Linked DNA regions of Homo sapiens. The protein of the gene in region 3 interacts with the protein of the main gene of each other region in a pairwise test. Each region holds a gene or a part of one and is shown on either strand. Other genes may lie near its edges. The genes, in order: PBX3, PAK6, TPD52L1, ABL2, GPR135 and EIF3J.

Evidence for each region.
Region 1: the proteins of TPD52L1 (region 3) and PBX3 interact in a two-hybrid assay, tested with the Homo sapiens proteins (one large-scale study listed by BioGRID).
Region 2: the proteins of TPD52L1 (region 3) and PAK6 interact in a two-hybrid assay, tested with the Homo sapiens proteins (one large-scale study listed by BioGRID).
Region 4: the proteins of TPD52L1 (region 3) and ABL2 interact in a two-hybrid assay, tested with the Homo sapiens proteins (one large-scale study listed by BioGRID and IntAct).
Region 5: the proteins of TPD52L1 (region 3) and GPR135 interact in a two-hybrid assay, tested with the Homo sapiens proteins (one large-scale study listed by BioGRID and IntAct).
Region 6: the proteins of TPD52L1 (region 3) and EIF3J interact in a two-hybrid assay, tested with the Homo sapiens proteins (one large-scale study listed by BioGRID and IntAct).

The regions. Positions count from the first base shown.
Region 1 is NC_000009.12:125,914,464-125,918,380, forward strand, and holds part of PBX3 (pre-B-cell leukemia transcription factor 3), read left to right. Parts: intron 1-1,222; coding exon 1,223-1,464; intron 1,465-3,917. UniProt on the Homo sapiens protein: Transcriptional activator that binds the sequence 5'-ATCAATCAA-3'.
Region 2 is NC_000015.10:40,262,781-40,266,697, reverse strand, and holds part of PAK6 (serine/threonine-protein kinase PAK 6), read right to left. Parts: intron 1,918-3,917; 5' UTR 1,913-1,917; coding exon 1,709-1,912; intron 857-1,708; coding exon 203-856; intron 1-202. Other genes in the region: BUB1B-PAK6 (serine/threonine-protein kinase PAK 6), read right to left, coding at 203-856, 1,709-1,912. UniProt on the Homo sapiens protein: Serine/threonine protein kinase that plays a role in the regulation of gene transcription. The kinase activity is induced by various effectors including AR or MAP2K6/MAPKK6.
Region 3 is NC_000006.12:125,261,423-125,264,974, forward strand, and holds the end of TPD52L1 (tumor protein D53), read left to right. Parts: intron 1-1,411; coding exon 1,412-1,540; 3' UTR 1,541-2,985; downstream 2,986-3,552.
Region 4 is NC_000001.11:179,100,486-179,104,402, forward strand, and holds part of ABL2 (tyrosine-protein kinase ABL2), read right to left. Parts: 3' UTR 1-3,917. UniProt on the Homo sapiens protein: Non-receptor tyrosine-protein kinase that plays an ABL1-overlapping role in key processes linked to cell growth and survival such as cytoskeleton remodeling in response to extracellular stimuli, cell motility and adhesion and receptor endocytosis.
Region 5 is NC_000014.9:59,462,340-59,466,944, forward strand, and holds the start of GPR135 (G-protein coupled receptor 135), read right to left. Parts: upstream 3,042-4,605; 5' UTR 2,888-3,041; coding exon 1,403-2,887; 3' UTR 1-1,402.
Region 6 is NC_000015.10:44,543,647-44,547,563, forward strand, and holds part of EIF3J (eukaryotic translation initiation factor 3 subunit J), read left to right. Parts: intron 1-3,917. UniProt on the Homo sapiens protein: Component of the eukaryotic translation initiation factor 3 (eIF-3) complex, which is required for several steps in the initiation of protein synthesis.

The DNA.
Region 1 (3,917 bases), on a different chromosome or scaffold from region 3:
AAAAGAATTGACGGTAGCTTTAGGTTAGCATATAAAATCAGAGTTGGTGATCAGTTGAGTACTTGGCAGCTTATAGATGTTATGTCATGTAAGTTACACTAGACACAAAGTGTGTACCACTGTGGATAAACAACAACAGGCACAGACTCAAAAGAGAATCCAAATACAAACAAGCAAGGTGCCAACTTCCTTTTCCCCTCTTCCCCAAGAAGCCTTGTAACTAGTGTAGGGAACCTGCTTTGAAGCAGATTTACAGAGGTTAATTGGGCTGGGATGTTTTAGATTATGTTACACATTAATGAAAATGCTGATTTTGAGCTGTCATGACTCCAATGCTTTTTATACCATGATAATTATTTTAAAACTTTGTCTTCTGTGTTGTTGAAAACATTTTGGCAGAAAGCCTGTGTGACCTGATTAAACCTATGAATTGTCAGCTATGATCTATAGTACTCAGAAGAGGTTGCTGACTGGGCATCACTTAGGAAGTTCTTGATTTAAAAGCAAAATTAGATTGAGACTACTGTGCCCAGCACTGTATTGCCATGTCAATGGCACATTTTTAATACTGTATTTAGTATCCTCGTTTTATAGTTTGCTGGCAATTGCTTAACAATATTCATTTAATAATATATATATATTTAAGTATAGCCAGTTACCTCATAATGTGTGTATTCCTCTTCTGAAATCACACGATGGAAAAGCTCATCTAATGTTGTTTATTTTTCAATTTTTGATTACAGCTTGTGAATTAACTATTTTATGGGAATTTTAATTCTGTTTCTCCAACTGTACAGAGAGAGACAGAATAACCACCTTTGGATGAGTTGTTTTATATCCCTGTAATTATTTTCTTTCTTTCTTAAAACATTCAATTTTTTACCCTCTTCCCATTTTATGCTTAAATTATCTAAATCTGGGAAGCTTGAATGATTAAAATATTCCAGGAAGCCAGGGTTACCTTTTTCTAAGGATCTAGTCTGTGGTAAATTGAGGCGGTGGGGGGGTATTTAAAATTCTAGGGTGCATGTAAACACTATCTTAAAAATAATTTTCATACTTATTCAAACTTACCGATCAAATGTGAACAATGAAGTTCTCAGCATGAATTGTAGTACACTGATGTTGTTTGATCATTTTCTCGAATAAACAAAATACTCACACTATTTGTCCTCTGTTTCTCGCTTCTTCTCTCTCTGTCTCTCTCTCTCTTTCCTTGAAGGTCTCAGCATCAGAGGAGCCCAGGAGGAGGACCCTCCCGATCCCCAGCTAATGAGACTGGACAATATGCTTTTGGCAGAAGGGGTTTCAGGTCCTGAGAAAGGTGGGGGATCGGCGGCAGCAGCTGCAGCCGCGGCAGCCTCTGGAGGTTCTTCAGATAACTCTATTGAACACTCAGATTACAGAGCCAAATTGACCCAGATCAGACAAATCTATCACACAGAACTGGAGAAATATGAACAGGTCAGCAGCCGCCACTCTCATAGTCCTACACAAACCCTCTGTTGCTCTTCTATTAGACCATGCTAACCAATTCTGAGGGCTGTGAGGGGTAGGTGTTAACACAAATTACAAAATAAATAAGGTCAGTGCAAAAATCCAAGTGAATTGTTGGATTCATGAAAGGAAGACCCTTTGAGATTTTGGAGGAGGAGCGCTACCTATTTTATCCCATCTACTTGTTTTAGTTTTATTCATTCCGCACATTCACGTGCCCTTATTACCACACCTGCAGTCATTCTTCCCTCTCACCTCACCACTTGGTGCTCTTCAAAGCTCTGTATAATTAACATTTATGCACTAGCCTTGTTCATAAGCTTTAATCACTTTTGAAGGGAAGCATTGCACAGTGAGCTTTTCCCTCCTATGCTGTGAGCTCCAGAATCCTCCTGGGAATTAATTCTTATGGATTGTGCCAGACTATAGGGAACTTCACCAAGTAAGCAGGTTCCGGCCTGTTTCTCTGAGTATGAGACCTCCCAAGATAATTATGGGTACCCCAGGACAGGGAATGCTAGGCAAGGCATTATGTGCTAAATTCCTTATTAGAAAGAGAATATGGGTTAAAAATCTGGTTCTCAGCAATTATATTAACCATACTGAATCTCAGATAACTTTAAGTTGCATCTTTATGTAACACCAAGAAAAAATTAATACTGCTAGTTTAACTATAAAATATTACTGATTATAAAATGCTTTCACATTTCAGAGATGTTAAAATGTGGAGAAAAACAAGAGAGTCTTAGATTTAATGTAATAAAGTAAAATATTGGTGGGTCTTTTTACATATATTTTAGTTGTTAGTTTAATGCTGAAAAGCTGCCAAGTTTGAGGAATTCTCATTTGATAAGATTTGTCATTTGGAAGGTAATTTTAAAAACGTATTATGAAACATTTTATAATACATGTACACAAAAATAATGAGAATAGTATTAGATTGAACCCTATGAAATTGCTAAGTTTTGAGGCCAAAAACAGTTGAATATGGTAATTTCATAGAGTTCAACCCCAAATAAGGAATCAGAATCAGCTAGATACTTTTTACCCAGATAAACAGTTATCAACATTTTGCCACTCTTATTTTGTGTACCCAGCCCCAATTTGGTAAGAGTATTTTAAAGCAAGTCTTAGACATCCTATAATTTCACCCATGAGTATTTCACTATGTAGGCAAGTACTTTTTAAAGTCCACACACTTTAGTGTGAAATGGGAGTCCTGGTGAGTTTTGTGTGTGTTTGTGTGTATTTTAAAGACTCTTTTAAAGAGGAGTTTTAAGTTCACAGACCAATTTGAGAGGAAAGAAGAGAGATATCACATATACCTCCTGTCCCCACACATGCATAGTCTCTCCCATTATCAGCATCCCCCACCAGAGGGGTTCATTTGTTAAAATTGATTAACCTACATTGACACATCATTATCACCCAAAATCCATAGTTTACATTAGGGTTCACTCTTGGTATTGTGCACTCTATGGATTTGGATAAATTTATGATGGCATGTACCCATCATTATAGGGTCATGCAGAGTATTTTCACTGCCCTAAAGATCCTCTGTGCTATTCATCCCTCTCTTCTTTTATTCTTTCCTTCCCACTGATCCCTGGCAACCCCTGATCAGTTTTAATACTGATTTTTTCCCCTCTACATTCCCTGTATAGTTTCAATTATATATATCGTTGTTTTTTCACATTGCCTTTTCTAATATTCTGGATACAATGGTATTAAGCAAATGCTGAATCCTATCCCAGAGGTGAGTGTGTTTTGAGGAAGAGTAGAAAAATTTGTATAGCTTTAAGTTAAAAAGTAGTGTAAATTAATATTATAAGGTGTTTTCTATTTTTGGAATAGGATTTTCTGAGATCTAAAATTGTATGTCTAGTCTCATTTGTAAGAATAACTTCTTGTGGAAAATGTACAAATAAGAATTTTGGAAAAATTATCGTGTGTATGTATGTAAAAATCCCACTTTCTGATTTGACATATGAATAATTGAGAGTAAACAAAATAAGTCATGGTTGAAAAGGTTGCCCCTGAGCATAAACAGTAGAAAATGACTCTTATTTGTAGTATAATCCTAATTGTATAACTTTATGCTAAAATAACTATAACTACTTACTAGATAAACACTACCAGTCACCTTGCATGGAAAGAGATATAATATTAGAGGCCAAATGGCCTGAGTTTTTTGGCTGAGGAATTAAGGTGATTCCTTACTACCTCTTGCCATGTGTCTTTACACCTGCCTCCTTACTTTCTCCATACACTCTGGTGGAAGTTGTGTGAAGCTGGTGTCAGTCAATGACAAGGTCCTGAGTCTCACTGTTTTAGAAATATCCTACAAAATTTTCCATGAGATTTTATGTAACTTTAGCCCCAGCTTATACCAGCATCAAATCACCAGGGTTTTTTTTTAT
Region 2 (3,917 bases), on a different chromosome or scaffold from region 3:
GAGAAAAGAAGGAAAGGAAGGGAGGGAAGGAGGAGGCGAGCCACCCTCCTTAGAGAAGAGGTTACCGTGCACATTTCTGCCGCCTTAGGCGGAAGCAGTCCAGGGAGCCTCTTTGCCAGTCCTCCAAGGGGAAGGCTAGGCAAGGCCTGTGTCCCTACACCCACTCCCCAGTGGACACCTGCAGGCCAGGCTCCTGACTTACCTTGCTCTGTGGTGGAGGGCCTGGCTTGCTGCTGCTTGGAGGGGCTGTGGCAGCAGTGGACAGGAACATGCTTCGGAATAGCCTGCGCTTCAGGCTGCTCTCCCGGGTCTTAGGGCTAGGGCTGCCTTCCCCACCTGGCCTGCCTGTGGCTGAGCCCACCAGGCAGGACTGTGGCCGGGCCTCCTCAGAGCCATGCTTGGCAGCCTTCATTCCATGCCTATTGGTGCCCGTGGGGGGCGAGGCTCCTGGTGGGGAGCTCTGCAGGCAGGCACCCAGCTGCAGACAGCGCTGCGAGGCACCCTGAAACTCGGCGGGGCCCAGGGACTGTGCCTTTGCAGCCAGCCCATTGGGCAGGACCCGTGGGCTCTGTGGCTCGGGCCACGGCATCTGCTTGTGGCCTGCTGGTGTGCCCCCGTTGCAGCTGAGGTAGAGGCCGTGGGGGTCAGTGCGCTCAGACTGGGGGCTCTGGAGGTACATGTCTGGGTCGGTGGCCCAGTGCTCATCCCCCAGCAGCCCCAGGGACTGTGCCCGCCGCCGGCTGGTGGGGCTGCGGCCACGCAGGGTGTTGGAGCTGATGACTGACAACTTCTGGATGTCGTTGAGCAGCCCCGAGATGTAGCCATCCACAGGCATCGCGCTGCCCCGCACCACTGTCTGTAGGGGGAAGAGAAAAGAGTGTGTGGGAGCTGCCCAATTGTGGCAGGGAGGGGTGGCTGGGAGATCAGGGTCAGAGAATGTCCCTGGGGGCCCTGGGGAGGACCACCTAAGGACCTTCCCTGCTGTGTCATCCACCCATTAATTTTTCCATAATTTATCAGGGCCCACCGTGGGTCCCGCCTGTGCTGGATGCAGGGATGCGGGGAGAAGGCCCAGCGTCAGCAGAGCAGATGGTGAGTGCCATGGGGCTGCATCCAGCATGCCCAGGGGTGTGGTCGGCTGGGCCAGGGAGCTGGAGCTCAGGGGGCGGGGCTCCATTCTCTAGCTCCACGGGTGGCTGGGAGAGATGTGCCCAGCCCTCTGAGGAAGAGACACCAGGCCGGGGGCTCCTCCACACACACTGGCTTCGCAGCCTCCAAACCCTGATAGGGCCCCTGACCCCACCTTCTACCAGGCTCTTGGGTCTACTAGTCGTGACCCTCACAACTAAAATTCTCCTGGTCTGGGAGAGCCCTCAGTCCCTATGGGGCTGCAGGTCCAAATATTGAATGGGACACGTCCTAAAAGACTATTCGTTGTCATCTGAAATACAAATGCAATTGAGCATCTCACATTTTCATGTGCTGAATCTGGCAACCCCACCACCCTGCAGAGAGGGTCTCCCCAGCCTCCTTCGCCCTGGCTTACCCAGGGAGAGAATGGCAGGCTGACAGGCAGGGAGTTAAAACAGCTGATTAACTGATAGCTGTGAAGTAGGTGGTTCCTCCAGGGGCCTTTCTGAGGTTTAGCCAGGCATGGTTGTCTGAGTACTGGGAGAGGCTGAACCTCATCCCTGCCGGCCCCTCTTACCTTCATGGGCTGGAGCTGCACCCGTGTGATTCGCGAAGGGTCCACCACGGGCTTGGGGCGCCGCAGTGTGTCCAGGATGTTCTGCCATTGTGGGGGGAGGCCCACAAACTTGCCTTCTTTGGGGTCGAAGGAGGTGTGGACACGGTGCTGGAAGTTCTGTGGCGCTGAGATCTCAGGGCGTTTCTTCTTTTTCTTGCGGAACATGGTGCCTGTAAGTGCAGAGTAAGGTTGAGCTCCCTCCCGGGAAAGAGGGGTGGCTGCAGCAGGGCCTGGGGCACCAGGTTCAGGGCTCCCTCCCCTCCCCCAGCACAGCTCCCCTAGAAGCCTAGGGCTTCCCTCCACCTCCATCTCTGCTTCCTCAGGGAAATGGCTGGCTCCCAGCAGAACAGTCCCAGAAACAACAAACGTGCCATAAATAAGCCAGTGCAGACTATAAACAAGGAAAAGAGGTGTCTTCTTGCCTGTGCCAAGTCCCCTATGGAGCAGGCAGACTCTGGGGGTGTGTTTTTATAAAATCCAAAGCCCATTACAAGTATCATTCCACTGTCTGTCAACGAATTTTAAAAATGGGGAAAGAGGGAGGAAAGTTAGCAAGCTTGTTTTATGAAACGAGTATGACCTTGATTCTTAAAACCAGATAAGGAGAGTGCAAGAAAAGGAAAATTTGACTCAATATCATTTAGGAACGTAACTATGAAAATCTTAAAACTATCGAATTGAATCCAACAGTATATTAAAGTTATTTTTTTGTTGGCTTTTTTTTTTTATTACAACTCAGCTTTGTCCCAGGATGGTTGAACCTGTTAATATGATACGTTAATAAAAAGCCAACCAGCTGATCACAGACATGCTGCCCGGTGTGGGACTATTATGTATCAGGGAGCCCCCAAAGGGCCTTCATGGTTACCATGTGCTTTACCTCAATTCCAGAAAGGCCCTGAGCCAAGAGGATAGCCTGGGGTGGGTGAGGGGCAGCTAACTTAGGGGTAAAGCTCTCCAGAGAAGGCAGAGAGCACCACCTCCCCTTGACACTCTTCTCTCTGGTATTGGAGCTCTATGTAAAACATCACCTGGGCCGGGCATGGTGGTTCATGCCTGTAATCCTAGTACTCTGGGAGGCCGAGGCGGGTGGATCACCTGAGGTCAGGAGTTTGAGACCAGCTTGGCCAACATGGTGAAAACCTGTCTTGACTAAAAATACAAAGAAATTAGCCGGGCCTGGTGGCACGTGCCTGTAGTCCCGGATACCCATGGGGTTGAGGGAGGAGAATCGCTTGAACCCAGGAGGCTGAGGCTGCAGTGAGCTGAGATTGCCCCACTGCACTCCAGCCTGGGCAACAGAATGAGACTCTGTCTCAAAAAACAAACAATAAAACACTTAACCTGCAATCAAGCCTGTGTCCCGTGCCTTGCTGATTCTGGCTTTGCCTAAGGTCGTGCTGAGCTGCATACACAGAAGTGACACAGGCTTGCAATGGATAGCATGGGTAGATCTGAGAGTGGGGAACTGGGGGCCTGGGAAGGGGAGGGACACTTCCAAAGGGTTGCTCTAGTTTCGCCTTCAGGGGATCCCGGACCTGGGATCACATGTTGATGGCAGACAGGGCCAGGGCTGCCTCTTGAATGCTTTTGGATCTGAAGAGGCTCAGAACAGCTCACTGGGTTCTTATGTATCTGAAAAGGTCACTTCCAGGCTTCAAGAAACTGAAACATGATTCTTGAACTGAAAGCTTGGATTACTCATCCGCCCGAAGATCTGGAGTGCAGGGCCGTCATGTTCTCTTTTGGCTCTTGCTATGGAAACAGCATTTTCCTAGTCATTTTGGCAGGTTCTGAAGGAGGTCGCAGATCTGGGAGGCAGCTGGCAGAAAGGCAGGGACCCTGGACAGCCAGTGGTTCCCCACTAGGAATTCACCATGCGTGACTCAATCAGAGCCCACGTCACATCTCAATGTCAGCCATGCTTCTGGGTCTTGAGGTTCGGGATCCACCGAACACCCCCTAGAGGTAGAGCCACATGTACAGGACCCTTACAGACCAAGCCCTTTGGAATAAAACAACCTGTGTGAGTTGCAGATGAGTTGTAGGGAGTCTCCCACTAATAATTTGGAGAGATTTTGAACAAATAACTGAAATGATCTGAGCCAGGGGGGTTAATGAAAGACAGCTCATAGGGTTTAGGGTGTGTGAAGTAAGCAGAGTCCCCATA
Region 3 (3,552 bases):
AATCAGTTTGGCAATAGCAACATTATTTATTCTATATCTTCTTTTTCCTTCAAAGTGTTTTTTCTACATTATGAAAAACAATGGGAGGGAAGGCCAGTGTGACTATTAATAAGACTTGCACTAAGCATTTTGCATCTTGTCAAGCAGACCATATTTTTAGTGCATCTACTTTTTGATAAATACATTACATGGCCTGGACCAAAACCTTAAAAAAAAAAAAAAAGGGCAAGTTGCATTACATGTTTTTTTTCCTTTTTGTATTATGAGAGATTAGGAAGCCAGTTTTAATAAGGGATTTTTAGCAGTTTTAATAAGGAATTTTTCAAAATACTTAGCCTTATTTTTAAATTGTAAGTTAATTCCTTCATGTTTCTATGCTTAGTCAATAACAAATACACAAGAAAAAAGCCTCATAAACCATCATAACTGCATTGTAAGGAATATTCATACTGTAAGGGTGTATTAATTCCATTTCACGCTGCTGTGAAGAAATACCTGAGACTGGGTAATTTATAAAGGAAAGAGATTTAATTGACTCACAGTTCCACAGGGCTGAGGGGGCCTCAGGAAACTTACAATCATGGCAGAAGGGGAAGTAAATATGTCCTTCTTCACATGGTGGCAGGAAGGAGAAGTGCTGAACAAAAGGAGGAAAGCCCCTTGTAGAAGCATCAGATCTTGTGAGAACTCACTCACTATCACGAGAACAGTATGGAGGTCACCGCCCCCATGATTCAATTACCTCCTACCAGGTTCCTCCTTGCTAGGATTATGAGGACTATGGGAACTACCATTCAAGATGAGATTTGGGTGAGGACACAGCCAAACCATATCAAAAGGCAGTTGCCTAAGATGATGTGAAATCACCAGTGATTAAGACTTGATCCATCTTCAATTTTCAAAGCAGAAACCAGAAATCATTTTCCATTGAGCCACTCTGACTTTTCAAAAGACATTTGTCAGAAATCCAGTTTGCCCTGCTAACTCCCAAGTAGAAAAATCTAAGTTTAGGTCATGTAAGGATGTTTATACATTTGTACAATTGGAGGAATTAATAAAAAATCTAATTCCATTTTGATTAGATCAGTTCTCTGGGTGAGTGGAGATAGCTGTTCCAAGTCCATGGATCCGATTATGCTCCTGAAGGGATTAAAATCTTAGATACAGGAGAGATAAAGAGAGGGTTGCTAAAAGTGTGCAAAATTAAAGTTTGGAATCCTATCCGAGAACCCAAGTATGAATAATATTCTAGCACTCTACTAAAGGAAACAAACTTCTGTGCATTCTTTTGTCTCTAAAGATAGAAAGTATTTCTGAATTTGAAAGTAATCCAGCTTTTGGTATTCTTATAAAAACATTACAAAAATGATAGTAACAACTAACTGCATTTTTGTGGATCTGCTCATTTCAGACGAAAGTAGGCGGTACGAACCCTAATGGAGGCAGTTTTGAGGAGGTCCTCAGCTCCACGGCCCATGCCAGTGCCCAGAGCTTGGCAGGAGGCTCCCGGCGGACCAAGGAGGAGGAGCTGCAGTGCTAAGTCCAGCCAGCGTGCAGCTGCATCCAGAAACCGGCCACTACCCAGCCCATCTCTGCCTGTGCTTATCCAGATAAGAAGACCAAAATCCCGCTGGGAAAAACCCAGGCCTTGACATTGTTATTCAAATGGCCCCTCCAGAAAGTTTAATGATTTCCATTTGTATTTGTGTTGATGATGGACCACTTGACCATCACATTTCAGTATTCATAGATGACTGTCACATTTTAAAATGTTCCCACTTGAGCAGGTACACAACTGGTCATAATTCCTGTCTGTGTAATTCGATGTATATTTTTCCAAACATGTAGCTATTGTTTGCTTTGATTTTTGCTTGGCCTCCTTTATGATGTGCATGTCCTTGAAGGCTGAATGAACAGTCCCTTTCAGTTCAGCAGATCAACAGGATGGAGCTCTTCATGACTGTCTCCAGCAATAGGATGATTTACTATAAATTTCATCCAACTACTTGTGATCTCTCTCACCTACATCAATTATGTATGTTAATTTCAGCAATTAAAAGAATTGATTTTAATGACTTTGAATTCTTAATTTCTTTGTCTTAAAAGTTGCTAGTTATGATTTTACAGATGCAATTTTAAATCAACTTTTAGCCAGGTGCGGCGGCTCACACCTGTAATCCCAACTATTTTGGATGCCAAGGTGAGAGGATTGCTTGAGGCCAGGAGTTAAAGATCAGCCTGGGCAACACAGACCCTGTCTCTACAAAAAAAGAAAAAAATTAGCCAGACATAGTGTTGCTTGCCTGTAGTCCCAGCTACTCTAGAGGCTGAGGCAGGAGGATTGCATGAGCCTAGGAGTTCGAAACTGCAGTGAGCTATGATTGCACCACTGCACTACTCCAGCCTGGGTGACAGAGTGGGACACTGTCTCCAAAAATAGTAATAATAAGTAGTCAACTTTTACTGCTAATTTGGTGAACATGAGAGAGGATATGAAAATAAATATTACCTCAGCTATCCTAGGATGTTAAAATAATCTCCAATTTTAAAATTCTCTCCAATCTACATACAGTAGTAGTTAGTCAGATAAAGGATATCCAAAAAAGAGATAGCTAGAAAATGGGAGAAGCAGAGTTCTGCAACCCCTTTCAGTTTGTAAATTGTTCACATGTATGAAAATAACTGGTATTTATCAATCCACTCAGATTTCTGCACTAACTTTTATCTTATATATCATATGTATCTCTTTTCTTTTTCTAAATGGGAACATATATTTGTTATTAGGTGGCAGAGATATAGCCTTAAGATATATTTGTAAAATGCACACTGAATAGACATCCAACCTAAAAAAAATCACTATTTAAAAAGCCCATATAATATATACATATTTGTTAGCATGCTAATTGTTCATGTTTTGTGTTTATTAAATAGAAGTGATATATATGACATTTTGAAGTAAAGCACATCTGAAAAATTCTACTCAAATTAATGGAGCATGACAATCTGTGCAATCTGTACACCTAACTGAAAATCAAGGTGGTTCAGGACAACATCATCTCTGAGGCCTGGAATCTTAGCAGAGAGAATGGGGCTGTAAACTTGACCAGAGTGGACAAATGTAGACAAAGAAAGCTCACTAGCAGGGATGCTGGCATTCTCCCTTATTTGTGCTTCCAGCCTGTTGGTTGAAGTAGAGGCAGGAAACCAACCCTGCCCAGCTGGTTCTCAGGCCGTGCTGGCTCGCCCACCACAGCACACAAGTACTCAGTCTCTGTGCCCAATCTATAGCTGCCTGTTGAGTGTGAAGTGGCTAACTTGTGAAAACTCCCTGCCACCTTCTTTTTTTACCATATTCAGCACACCGCATTGTATTAGATAAAGTTATGGTACTTTAAACAAATATCTCCGTTCACCAACCAATTTCTGCACACCATAGTCTCAGCCTTATAATCTGAAAACACAATATTAGAATTGGATAGAAAAACAATCAAGAAAACTTGTGGTAATATCTTAAAGCTTCCAACACATTTTAGCTATTTATTTTATTCCATT
Region 4 (3,917 bases), on a different chromosome or scaffold from region 3:
TAAGTCCCATTCTCCAACTAAAGTTTATGGTGCCTAATTCCGAAGCAAATTTAAGCAAGTTCTGACTACACAAACTCCTTATGTTTCCTTTCATAAAGCCTGCTAGCATTCGACAGTTTGCCTCCAGCTTTTCTAAAAGGTTACTTAGCATGCTCGGAGACCTCAGCTTCTGAGGGTTCAGCTCAGTAGCCTGGAGTGACAGGTAGGACCCTGAAAATTTGCTGATGCGAGTACAGTGATGAACAAAGAACCTTCCAGAATAGACACAGATGACATGTATCACAATTCTGCTCCAAATATGGTGTGGTCTGAGGACAGTGCTGTGCCTGGCCTTTCCCCTTCAACACGCCAGCTGCTCCCTCAGAGTGAACAGGGCTTTGCTACTCTGCTCAGGTCAAAAGGTAAGATTTTTGTAGGAGAGGTAAACAATTTCAAAGTTAGAGATGTACATGGGGATGAAGAAGTAAGTGCACTTGGAGGGAAGGGTCCGGCGAGACCTCGCCAGGTGGGCTTGAGAAACGCAGCAACTGCCAAGTGAACACTCTCAGGAAACCACTTCAAGTGGCGGATTCTCACAGATGGAGGATCTGGCCACTGCCATCTGAGAAGCTCGTGTCTACCAGCTCTAGTTCAATAATCATGCAAAATCAACCCAGCTGACAAGTCTTTTCCTCTCTGAGACTCATGAAACCCATCTTTGAAGGCACAAATCTCCAAGGGTGGCCTCTCAGCAGTTTCTGCCATTCCAAGTCAGCTTTGAATCATGACCTGCCACAGGCCTCCTTACCTGGGAAGAAGTATGGGATCTTCTTATCTTGATCCCACAGGGTGAAGCCTTCCCTAATTTCCTGTCCTTTGGATCTAGGATATTGAGTCAGAAATGAAGGTATCCTTTTTTTTTTTTTTCTTCTTAACGTGTCTCACTCTGTCACTTAGGCTGGAGTGCAGCGGCGCGATCTCAGCTCACTGCAACCTCCGCCTCCTGGGTTCAAGCAATTCTGCCTCAGCCTCGGGAGTAGCTGGGATTACAGGCATGTACTACGCCCGGCTAATTTTTATATTTTTAGTAGAGACGGGGTTTCACCATGTTGGCCAGGCTGGTCTCAAACTCCTGACCTCAAGTGATCCGCCCATCTTGGTCTCCCAAAGTGCTGGGATTACAGGCACGAGCCACTGTGCCCAGCCAAAAGGTATCATCTTGTACATACTCAAGATAGAATACATACCTCAGAGAGGTGGCATGAAAAGCAGAAATTCATCCGTCTGCACATTGCAATAAACTTCCCAAGAGACAGGCTGGACTGAGTCATGGGGGTGAGTGCTCCAGAGTAGGCTGTAGCTTGTCCCACAGCCCTGAATCCCACCCATGCTTCTCAGTAAGAGAGGAGCGTAGGGAATGACAGTGAAGTTCAAGTGAACTACAGTTGTGCTGAACAGAGCAAGTAACAATAACTATTACTACTGGCTTGCTGGAAAAAAGAAAAAAAAAGCAAGCTTTGCATTAGAATTTCTTTTTTTTTTTTTTTTTTTTTTTTTTTTTTTTTTTGAGACGGAGTCTCACTGTCACCCAGGCTGGAGTGCAGTGGCGCGATCTGGGCTCACTGCAAGCTCCGCCTCCTGGGTTCACGCCATTCTCCTGCCTCAGCCTCCCCAGTAGCTGGGACTACAGGCGCCCGCCACCACGCCCAGCTAAGTTTTTGTATTTTTAGTAGAGGTGGGGTTTCACCGTGTTAGCCAGGATGGTCTCAATCTCCTGACCTCGTGATCCACCCGCCTCAGCCCCCCAAAGTGCTGGGATTACAGGCGTGAGCCACCGCACCCGGCCAGAATTTCTTTAAGTCTAGTAGTTGGAAAACCAGAACTCTATCCAAATGATATAGATATCTTGACTGTTAAGAGTTGGAGACGTTTCAGAAGTTCTCACATACTCCTACGGATCCCAGACTGAAGCAGGAATTTACAAAGGAAGTGAGCTACTACTGGCTTGATACAAGCTAAGACAGAGACACAAACCGCTGAAGCCTATCAATACTTAAGCCAGAGACCCACCTACAAAAAGAGGATTGGTCATAGCAGATCCTTAGGGCACAGAGATGAACCCCAAATCCAGGTGGAACAATTTAATGCAAGATGATGAAACTCAAAAATCAAGAACAAAAATATAGATAACCCTGTCAACCCAATATGAACTCCTGGTAGGGGCACAGCCTGATAACAAGAATGACATCAGTAGCAAAATGGAAGGGAGCAGAAGGGGTCATAATGAAATGTAGCTATAATTCAGAAGTGGCCACCAAGGCAATTTACTTTTGAGTATTTTATAATAGGTGAATTAAATTCAGCTATTCTTTTTAGAAAAAGAAAAAAAAGATGACAAATGTCAATGTCATTTATAACTGGTAGGAAATCCTAGAAAAGTAATTCCCAAAGTGCACTGGTTTTATGGCCATCCACCTCCCCCTGTAAACCTAACAAAACTATGCAGGACATAGGTTAAAAAAGACACTGTCAACATCAACAGATAACAAGTCTGTTCCCACCACATTTAGGATAAATGGCCAAGCATATAGTGGATAAATGGAGAAGAGTAAGAGGACCTCATCCTTCTTGAGTCAAGGTCCTTGGAAGAGCTTCTGTGTTCTGGAGTGAGTACACATTCTTACTTTTTAAAGATCGGAATTAAACCAAAAAGTTGGTCCCTAGTTTCCTGAAGTAATTCAGCTCTGAACTACAACTTTAGCAAACACTTGCTATACCTGCTCATACCTGTTAAGCAGTTTCATATTTCTAAATGTGATAAATGACAGAGGTGATTCTTACGTATCTACATTTTCAGGTACCCCACAGGGTCCATCCACATTGAATCAACTGTCTTATCTTTTAAACAGACAATACTACAACCTTATAGTTATATTACAGTTGATATTTTCTCAAAGTGCTGTCATATACATTATCTCATAGTCATTAAAATAATGTGAACAATAAAGTTTTTTTAAAGAAAAGGGAATGTAGGACTAACTAGGTTTTTTAAAAACTCAAGTTGGTATTTCTTTACTACAAAGTGCACATTGCTGTGTTGCTGAGGTCTGTCCAAAAGAATGACCCCATTGAATTTTTTAAATGACTGAATTCTACTGAGTGCTTGCTTGGCTTGTGTTCCCATTACTCCACATTCAAGCCCCTTAAGGTCAAAGTGTCAGGAGCATGTGCTTTAGAAAGTGTGCAGCACCACACAGGCTGATTGTCGGTCTGAGCCACTTTTTTGCAGTGTCTCACATGGCAGCAGGTATGGTGGAAAGACCCCACAACCATAAAGTCAAGAGACTTGAATTCTAGCCTTGGCTCCGCCACTAATTAACCGTTCTGAGACAATAGGCAAGTAATTTAACCATCTTCTGCTAGTTTCTTAATCTATAAACCAAAGGGTTGGGGTACTGATAGTTTTCAGATAGCACTGGGTGTTTCAAACACCTGGCGAGATTACTGGAGAATACACTGGCCGAGACCCCAGCCCACTGGGAATTCTGATCTGGAGTGGGGCTATTCCGTCAGTTTTTTTTGTTTGTTTTGTTTTGTTTTTTAACCCTAGGGGATTCTGCTGTGCATCCCTAGACTAGGTGTTAATAATAGTAGTAGTAGAACATTTATAGAGTGTGCTCATTGTGTGCCAGGCACTTGAGCTAAGTATCTTACAAATATCATCTCATTTAATCCTTACAACAACCCTGAGGTAGTTACTATTATTATCCCTGTTTTACAGTGAGGAAACTGAGGCTCCCAAGGTTAAATGACTTGCCTTTTAGACTGGCATTAGAGCCTAAACACTAAACCACTATCTATACTGCATCCTTTAAACTCAAAATCTCCATGACTTTAGTTAAATAAAAATGGGCAGTGCCTTAGCAAAGTCAGCATGC
Region 5 (4,605 bases), on a different chromosome or scaffold from region 3:
CGTATTTAACATTAGAAAGTTCACATACGCTTTTGAATTATTGTAAAACCATCTTTTCTGCTAAGATAGAAATTTAAAAAGCATCTTTGATTTGCATATTTCTAAAGATATTTTCAGTTTGCTTGAAGTTCTTCTCCAACTTTATGCCTGTGTTTTAATACCGTTACATATAGTCCCACACCTATTCTCCCTTTAATAAATACATTATCTTCGACAAGTCATAGCTATAAAGCAACCATCAGCTATTTTAAAAAATACAAAATATACCAAATTTCTAAATGTAGGAGGGTATGATCTATTTGGAAAAGTCTACGCTAATTCCAAGAGGCTGCTTCTCAAAATAGTTTTAGAATTTCTCTTTGGAATCGTTTTCAGTTAGCTAAAAGCCACGTAGGAAACCCAACCTTGTTGTTTTATAGAGGTCTCATTTTAAAAAATAATAAAAATTTAAATAAAGTGGCATCACTCACCTTATTCAATCAACTTGACTTCAAATTACATTTTTGGCTATATCCAAAAATCAAATTTACCTCAAAAGACAAAAATTTTCTACAATGAAAATATTTTTTTAAATGTGAAAGCATTCTGAGAGCAGCATTCCAAAATTTATCAGAAATAAAAGTAACAGGTTAGAGTAAGGATAAAACTTCAAAGTTTTCCAAGGAAGATCATTTTGGAGGTATGACGCGGGTGGAAGGAATGTTAATTTTTACATATAATCTTGGAAAACATTTAAAAGACACATTTCTTTATGTTCATACTTCTATTTGTCCTTCAGATGGTTGAATTTTATCTAATAATAACCAGCTTTTCAAAATCCTAAAATGATTTTAAATGGGTTATGAATTAAAAATTTTCCACAAAGGTTATTAGGGGGTGGGGTGAGGAGGTGCACCAATGTGTGTAAGGATAAGACTTTTCCACTTGCAATCTAAGCACCCAAAGCATGTCAGAGGTGCAAGCTCTAGAAGCTAAAGTTTTGTTGGATGGTAGCGATTTAGAGGGGCTTTCAAGCAGCTCTGAAGGTCTCCATTCATTCCTGAAATTCTGTGTAGTTGAACAATACTGGTTGCATTCAATGTTTTGTTTGTTTCACAGTGTGGTCCTATAATATGAGCTTTTCAGTTATAGTGAATGTTATTTTTGTCATTTTTGGCACTTACAGTTCACAATGCTTGGTTATGTGGTTTAAGATTGTTTTAATTTTTGCATTTTACATTCCTTTTGGCACTTTTGAAGAAGGGACATTGTCTTTTATGTTGTTTGGGGAAAGTGGTAAGCCTCCCCCGTCTCTAGCTTTAAATGTTTGGCTTTATGAAATCCACAACTCTCCCCCAGAATCTTCCATCATTAAATAATGCGAGTGGAAATTTGCCTTCATAAGCTGGCCATTCCAACCGTCTTAGAGGCTGGTATCCCCAGCTTCGGATTTAGGCTGTTTGGTCACTGCCGTCACCGGCTCTGGTGGTCCCTCTCGGCAGAAAAGTACAACTGGATTTTTGCGGGCCCACATGGCCACGTCCCCTGCCACTCCGCTGGCCGGGTTGGAAGAGGACATCCTGTTGCAGGCCCCCAGCCGGTTGGCATAGCGGTTTCGAAGGCGACTGCGGCTTCTGGCTTGCAGACCCGGGCCCTGGCTGGGCAGGAAAGCGTCCACATTCCTAGTCCGGTAGCCCTCCTCGCGGTTGCGCCCTAGGAGCATCGAAATGTTGGGATTGCGGATGGCGTAGATGACAGGGTTGATGGCCCCATTGGCCCAGGTCAGCCAGACGGCCACCACGCTGAGGAGCGAGGGGGCCTGCATGGTCTGGGCCTGCCGGGCGGCGGCCAGCAGCACCAGGAAGCAGTAGGGCCCCCAGCAGCAGATGACGAAGACGATCATGATGAGGACGGTGGTGGCCGTGCGCACCTCGCTGAAGAAGCGCAGCACGCGCGCGTAGGTGTTCACCGGCCGCACGCGCACGTCCGACAGGCGCACCGTCTTGCAGATGTGGTAGTGGCAGAAGCACATGAGCAGGAAGGGCAGCAGGTAGCAGGCCACCACCAGCCCCACGCTGAAGGCCGCGCCCAGCTGCGCGGGGTCCGGGGAGGTCCGGTAGAGGCAGCCGTGGAAGCTCTGCGCCGCCGCGAGTTCCCGGGGCGCCCCGAGCAGCTCCCAGGGCAAGGAGAAGCCCAGGGCCGTCAGCCAGGCGCCCGCCAGCAGCTGCAGCGCGCGGCGGCGGCCGATCTTCTCCCGCGGCGGCCGCACGATAGCGCAGTAACGGTCCAACGAGATGAGCGCCACGCTGAGCGTGGACACGATGCCGAAGCACGAGCTGAAGAAGCGGCTGGCGGCGCAGAAGCCGCGCCAGGGCCCCGCGGCGGCGGCAGGCGCCGAACCCCCGGGCGGAGTGAAGAGGTCCAGGAAGGCGGCGGGCAGGCAGAGCAGCGCCGTGAGCAGATCCGATAGGGACAGCGACAGGATGAAGGCGTTGGTGACGGTGCGGAGCTGCCGGTGCTTCACAATCACCCCCATCACCGCGCAGTTGCCAAGGCTAGACAGCAGGAAGATGAGCAGGAGGACGAGCGCCTGGGCCGCCACTGCAGCTCCGTGCGACAGCAGCGGCGCCGCCTCCGGGCCTAGCGGCCGCCTCACCGCCGCCCCCGCCTCCCGCGCTGCCCCGGACCCGCCAAGGCCGCCGCCACCGGGAGCGGCAGCTGTGCCGCCTCCGCTTGCGTCGCTCAGGTTCCCCAGCGCCGCGGTCGCCACGGTGCTGAAGGAGAGCACGGCCGCCGTGGCCGCGGAGGAAGTCCCGCCAGGTGGGCCGGCCGCGGAGGGGGCGCCGGAGTGCTGGCTGCCCAGTAAGGCCATGCTCGCTGGTGGGCGGGGCGGCTGCGGCTCCTCCATGGGGCCCAGTGGCGGCCGCGGATCTCCTCATCCCGCACCGGGGGCGGCGGCCGCTAGGTCGGAGTGGTGGCTCGGGGCCGGGGGCTAGCGGCCGCCGCGGGGAGCTGGGCTCGGCCGGAGGGGTGGCGGTCGCTGGGGACCTGGCGGAGCCTTTGACGTGGGTTCCAGCGTTGCCGAGGGAACCGCGTGTTTACGCAGGAGCGCGGGGCGGGACGGCAGCCCAGTACCCGCTGCAAAGCCGACCCGCGACACCGCCACTCCGGAGGTTACCGGCCCGGGTGTTCGGGTTTCCGAGAGTGCCAGGTCGACCTCCTGAGGGACCAATGTCCGGCCAGATAAAGTGCCGACTGGCATGCAAACAAATGACCAGATTCAACGAAAGTTCACTCTTGCTCTCTTTTGTAGGGTACAAATGTTCTACAGGCAGGCCTTTTGGGGAGTGGTGGGGGGGGCACTCTGCTTCCTGTGGGTGCTTTTGGTATATACAGGTAGGAAAGGAATCTAGAAAGTGAAGTGAAAGAAAAATCCAGAAGTCTACATCCAGACATCTTAAACTTGAGAAGCAGACTAATTTAAACCAGTAATTCTCAAACTTGAGCTAACAGAATTCACATAGAGGGCGTGTTAAAATACAAGTGACGAGGTCTGAACCCCAGCGTTTCGAATATGTCTGGGGAAGTACCCAAGAATTTGTATCTCTAACGGGTTCGCGGGTGGTGATGATGATGCTGGTCCCAGGACCACACTTACAGAAGCACTGATGTCAAGAGTTTCATAAAATGCAGATTCCCAGGCTGACAGAATTACTAAGGATGGGCCCATGACTCTAAACCCCGTAGGTGATTCTGATACAGGTGCTCTGAGGAGCTAGGATAGTTCCTTTAGATGTTACTTCATTTCCAAGGGCCTGGACCTCAGGCCCCTACTGGCTGATAAATGGGGGGAGAGGGATTGGTGCCTTGCCCTGCTAGCAGCCTTCATCTGTTCTCAGGAATGGGGTATGTTTTGAGTCTAAGGTGCTGCCAGCCTGGCAATCACCACAGATGCAGCTCCAGGTACCTGGCTGGGAGATACGGGGAAAAGAAAGGCAGGGCTACCCAGGGAAGTTGCATCTCAAGTTTCTGGGCATGGCCTCTAATGGGGAAAAGTGTGATAAACCCTCAGGTTAACTAACCCTGGGCTCTTCGCTAAAGCAGTGGTTCACAGAGTATGGACATTGGACCAGCAGCATCAACATCCCCTGGAAACCTTGAGAAATACAAATTATCAGGCCTACAGTGCATAGGATACCCCTGATCTACTGAAACTCCTGTGGTGGGGCCCAGGCACCTATGTTTTAACAAGCCCTCCCAGTGATTCTGATGCACAAATTTGAGAAACACTGCTCTAAAGAATGACTAGTATATTTGTAGATCTTAGAATCAATGGTATTAGTATTGGAGTGCTTATTTCATTCAGAAAAAATATCCTACAGGAAATTTACAGTATAAATAGAAGAACGTTTAAGGTGGCAAACCAAAACTGGGTTTGTCAGCCTAAGCGTCATGGACTTTTGGGCCAGATAATTCTTTATTGCAGGGGCCATCTATACATTGTATGATGTTCAGCAGCATCCCTAGTTCCTACCTACGAGATGCCAGTAGCACCTCTCCCAGCTGTGACAACTAAAACTGTCTTCAGATATTGCCAAATATCCTCTTGGGAGCAGTCAATGCCAG
Region 6 (3,917 bases), on a different chromosome or scaffold from region 3:
CGTGATCTGCCTGCCTTGGCCTCCCAAAGTGCTGGGATTACAGGCATGAGTCACCACGCCTGGCCAGAATCACTTCTTTTGCTACTAAAATCCATTCTGTGATGGAGTAGGGAATGTCTAGGTAGCTTCATTATGTCTGCATTGATGTGTGTCTGGGGTAAGGTTTATGCTTTGATGGGAGAAACTAGGGACAGGGATAGAGGTGGACATAGAGTTGGTGTGAATGTACTGAGGGAGCAGTGATATGGGTGGGGTGGGGGTTATGTTTTTCTGGGAAGGGTAACTGAAGAGCATCAACATTAAATAAAAATGCTCCTGTGTTGAGTTTGTTTCTTTACCTTGGAGGTATTGAGATGGAGCTCCTTATTTTCAGCCATACTTCTTCCTTCTTGACCTCTTACTACCAGAGGCTTGCAGACCAGTTTTTTTCTTTTTTCTTTTCTTTTCTTTTCTTTTTTTTTTTTTTAGACGGAGGCCTTCTCTATCACCCAGGCTGGAGTGCAGTGGCGTGATCTCGGCTCACTGCAACCTCTGCCTCCCGGGTTCAAAGTGATTCTTGGGCATCAGCCTCCCGAGTAGCTGGGACCACAGGTGCACACCACCACGCCCTGCTAATTTTTTTTGTATTTTTAGTAGAAACAGGGGTTTGCCATGTTGGCCAGGCTGGTCTTGAACTCCTGAACTCAGGTATTCCACCCACCTTGGCCTTCCAAAGTGTTGGGATTACAGGCGTGAGCCAACTCATCTGGCCCAGTTTCTTAAATTAGTAGAAAACTGGCCAGGCGTGGTGGCTCACACCTGTAATCCCAACACTTTGGGAGGCTGAGGTGGGTGGATCACCTGAGGTCGGGAGTTCAGGACCAGCCTGACCAACATGGAGAAACCCATCTCTACTAAAAATACAAAATTAGCCAGTTCGTGGTAGCACATGCCTGTAATCCCAGCCACTTGGGAGGCTGAGGCAGGAGAATCGCTTGAACCCAGGAGGCAGAGGTTGCGGTGAGCTGAGATCGTGCCATTGCACTCCAGCCTGGGCAATAAGAGCAAAACTCCATTTAAAAAAAAAAAAAAAAAAAAAGGTGGGAGGGGCCAGGCACGCCTGTAATCCCAGCACTTTGGGAGGCTGAGGTGGGTGGATCACGAGGTCAAGAGATCAAGATTATCCTGGCCAACATGGTGAAACCCGGTCTCTACTAAAAACACAAAAATTAGCTAGGCATGGTGGTGCATACCTGTAGTCCCAACTACTCAGGAGGCTGAGGCAGGAAAATTGCTTGAACCTAGGAGGCGGAGGTTGCAGTGAGCTGAGATTGCGCCACTGCACTCCAGCCTGGCGACACAGTGAGACTCCATCTCAAAAAAAAAAAAAAGATCAGTAGAGAACCACTACAGGCAATTTAAGGTGAGAAGTTTGGTAACCAGTATACCTCTAGCTGGGCATATCTTAATATGTGTAATAATCCTTCTCTTTATGAGATTCCCAGAGTTCCCAGGAGAGGGACTTAGTTCCCAGTTAGTTATTTTATACTTCAGGACTCAGGGAAGAAGTCATATTTACTATAATACTATTTTTATTTTTATTATTTTGCATTGGAATTGCATTGGAATTGCTTTATTCCAGCGAATTAAATTGTTTACCAGACTGTGAATTTTGTAAGCAAGTGTTTAAAACATGCTTTTTAAAGACCTTCCTTAACATTGTGTTTAAAGCCTTAAATGAAGCTGTTTACATGTATACATTTAAAGGATGTATCTCAGCATGTTACTCTAAAGATGTGTTGTAAGCTGCTTTATTACAGTGAATTGAACTCTACTAAACCGTGAACTTTGTAAGCAAGTGTTTAAAACATGCTTTTTAAAAAAGTAAATCATTTTATTTTCAATAAAAAGGTCAGTCAAATGTTTAGTTATTTAAAACTTTTTTAAAATTAGTTTTTATAATTGGCAAATAATGTACATATTTATGGGGTATATTGTGATGTTTCAATGCATGTATACATTGTAATTACCATTTCATCACTTTAAACATTTATCATTTCTTTGTGGTGTTAACATTCAAAATTTTCTTATGGAACTATCTTGAAATATATAACATTGTTATTAGCTATAATCACCGTACTGTGTAATAGAACACCAGAACTTATTCTTCTAACTGTAACTTTATACCTATGACACTTTAAAGAACTTTGGTCCATTCAGAGCAGGTCCCTTAGTTTTTCACTGAGATTGTGGGTTGGCTATGTCTGGGCCTGGGTTTCCTTTTCTTTAAAATGGGGGAATAACACTACCTTCTTACAGGACTGTTGTGAGAATTAACCTTGTTACTACACCTGTTTCTCAGAAGGGTTTTAAATATGCATCTTCTGGAAGTAAGCAAATGGTCCTCCTATCTGAAACACTGCCCCCTATCACTCACAGATCCAGCCTTCCTGTGTTCTGTGAAGATTTAAACAACAAAAAATGCCTAGTAATTCACTTTTATTTTTAGCTCTTTGGTTCCTTTTGTACTGTGATGTATAGCACTTAGCAAACTAACGGCGAAATACAAACGTTTGATCTCTAATTTCTAACTCTAGTATCACAGTTACTCAAATAATGACTAGCTGGTTTGCTTTCAATCTGTTAAAACTGCGAGCTGTGGGTTAAATTGCTGAAGTAAGATGAATATAAAAATACACTTACTTTTTAATACAAAGTTCCTTTAATTATGCTTGCAGACTGTATGACAGCCTTAATCAGGATGTTGAATTTTTAATTTCTTTACTGGACTTAGAGATTTTTATTAAGAACCAAGGCTTGGTTAGTTTATATTCCTAGACTGATACAAATTTGTGATCTGTCGTGTTATGAAACCAGAAGCTTGGTGTCATATTGTGGCATATTAGTCATACTAGTCAGCCTTTGCTTCTTTAGTAGCATCAGGGCCTCTTGCCCTGCTTTTGCCATCTTGCCACTCAGCTTCAAATGGCATGTCATAGTGTGCCTGGTGGCTGCTGAGACAATGGCCAGGCTACCTATGATTAAAGCCATCTTTAATCATAGGGCTGTGTCTGTCCCTATTAAACTTGAGCCTTCTAAGTTCTGTGGAGCTTTTAGAAAATTGTGTTTGATAATTGGTTTATATTTAGCTCAATGATTGAGTTAGGCATAGAAAAAACAGAGTATAGATCTTTTTTTTTTTTTTTTTTTTTTTTTTTTGAGACAGAGTCTCTGTTGCCTAGGCTGGAGTGCAGTGGCTCGATCCTGGCTCACTGCAGCTTCGCCTCCTGTGCTCAAATGATTCTTGTTCCTCAGCATCCTGAGTGGCTAGGATTACGGGCGTGCACCACCATGCCCACCTAATTTTTGTATTTTTTAGTATAAACGGGGTTTCATCATGTTGGCCAGGCTGGTCTCGGAACTCCTGGTCTCAAGTGATCTGCCTGCCTCGGCCTCCCAAAGTGCTGGGATTAAAGTGCCCTGAGTTAGAGAGTGGGATCCATGAAGGCTTGATTAGCTGTTGACTTTTTTTTGTGAGACGGAGTTTCATTCTTGTTGCCCAGGCTGGAGTGCAATGGCGCGATCTCGGCTCACCACAGCCTCTGTCTCCTGGGTTCAAGCAATTTTCCTGCCTCAGCCTCCCGAGTAGCTGGGATTACAGGCATGTGCCACCACACCCAGCTAATTTTGTATTTTTAGTAGAGACGGGGTTTCTCCATGTTGGTCAGGCTGGTCTTGCATTCCCGACCTCAGGTGATCTGCCTGCCTTGGCCTCCCAAAGTGTTGGGATTACAGGCGTAAGCCGGCCTTGATTCTTTTTTTTTTTTTTTTTTTTTTTTGAGACGAAGTCTCGCCGCACTGTCACCTGGGCTGGAGTGCAGTGGCACAATCTTGGCTCACTGCAACCTCCCACTCCTGGGTTCAAGTGATTCTCCTGC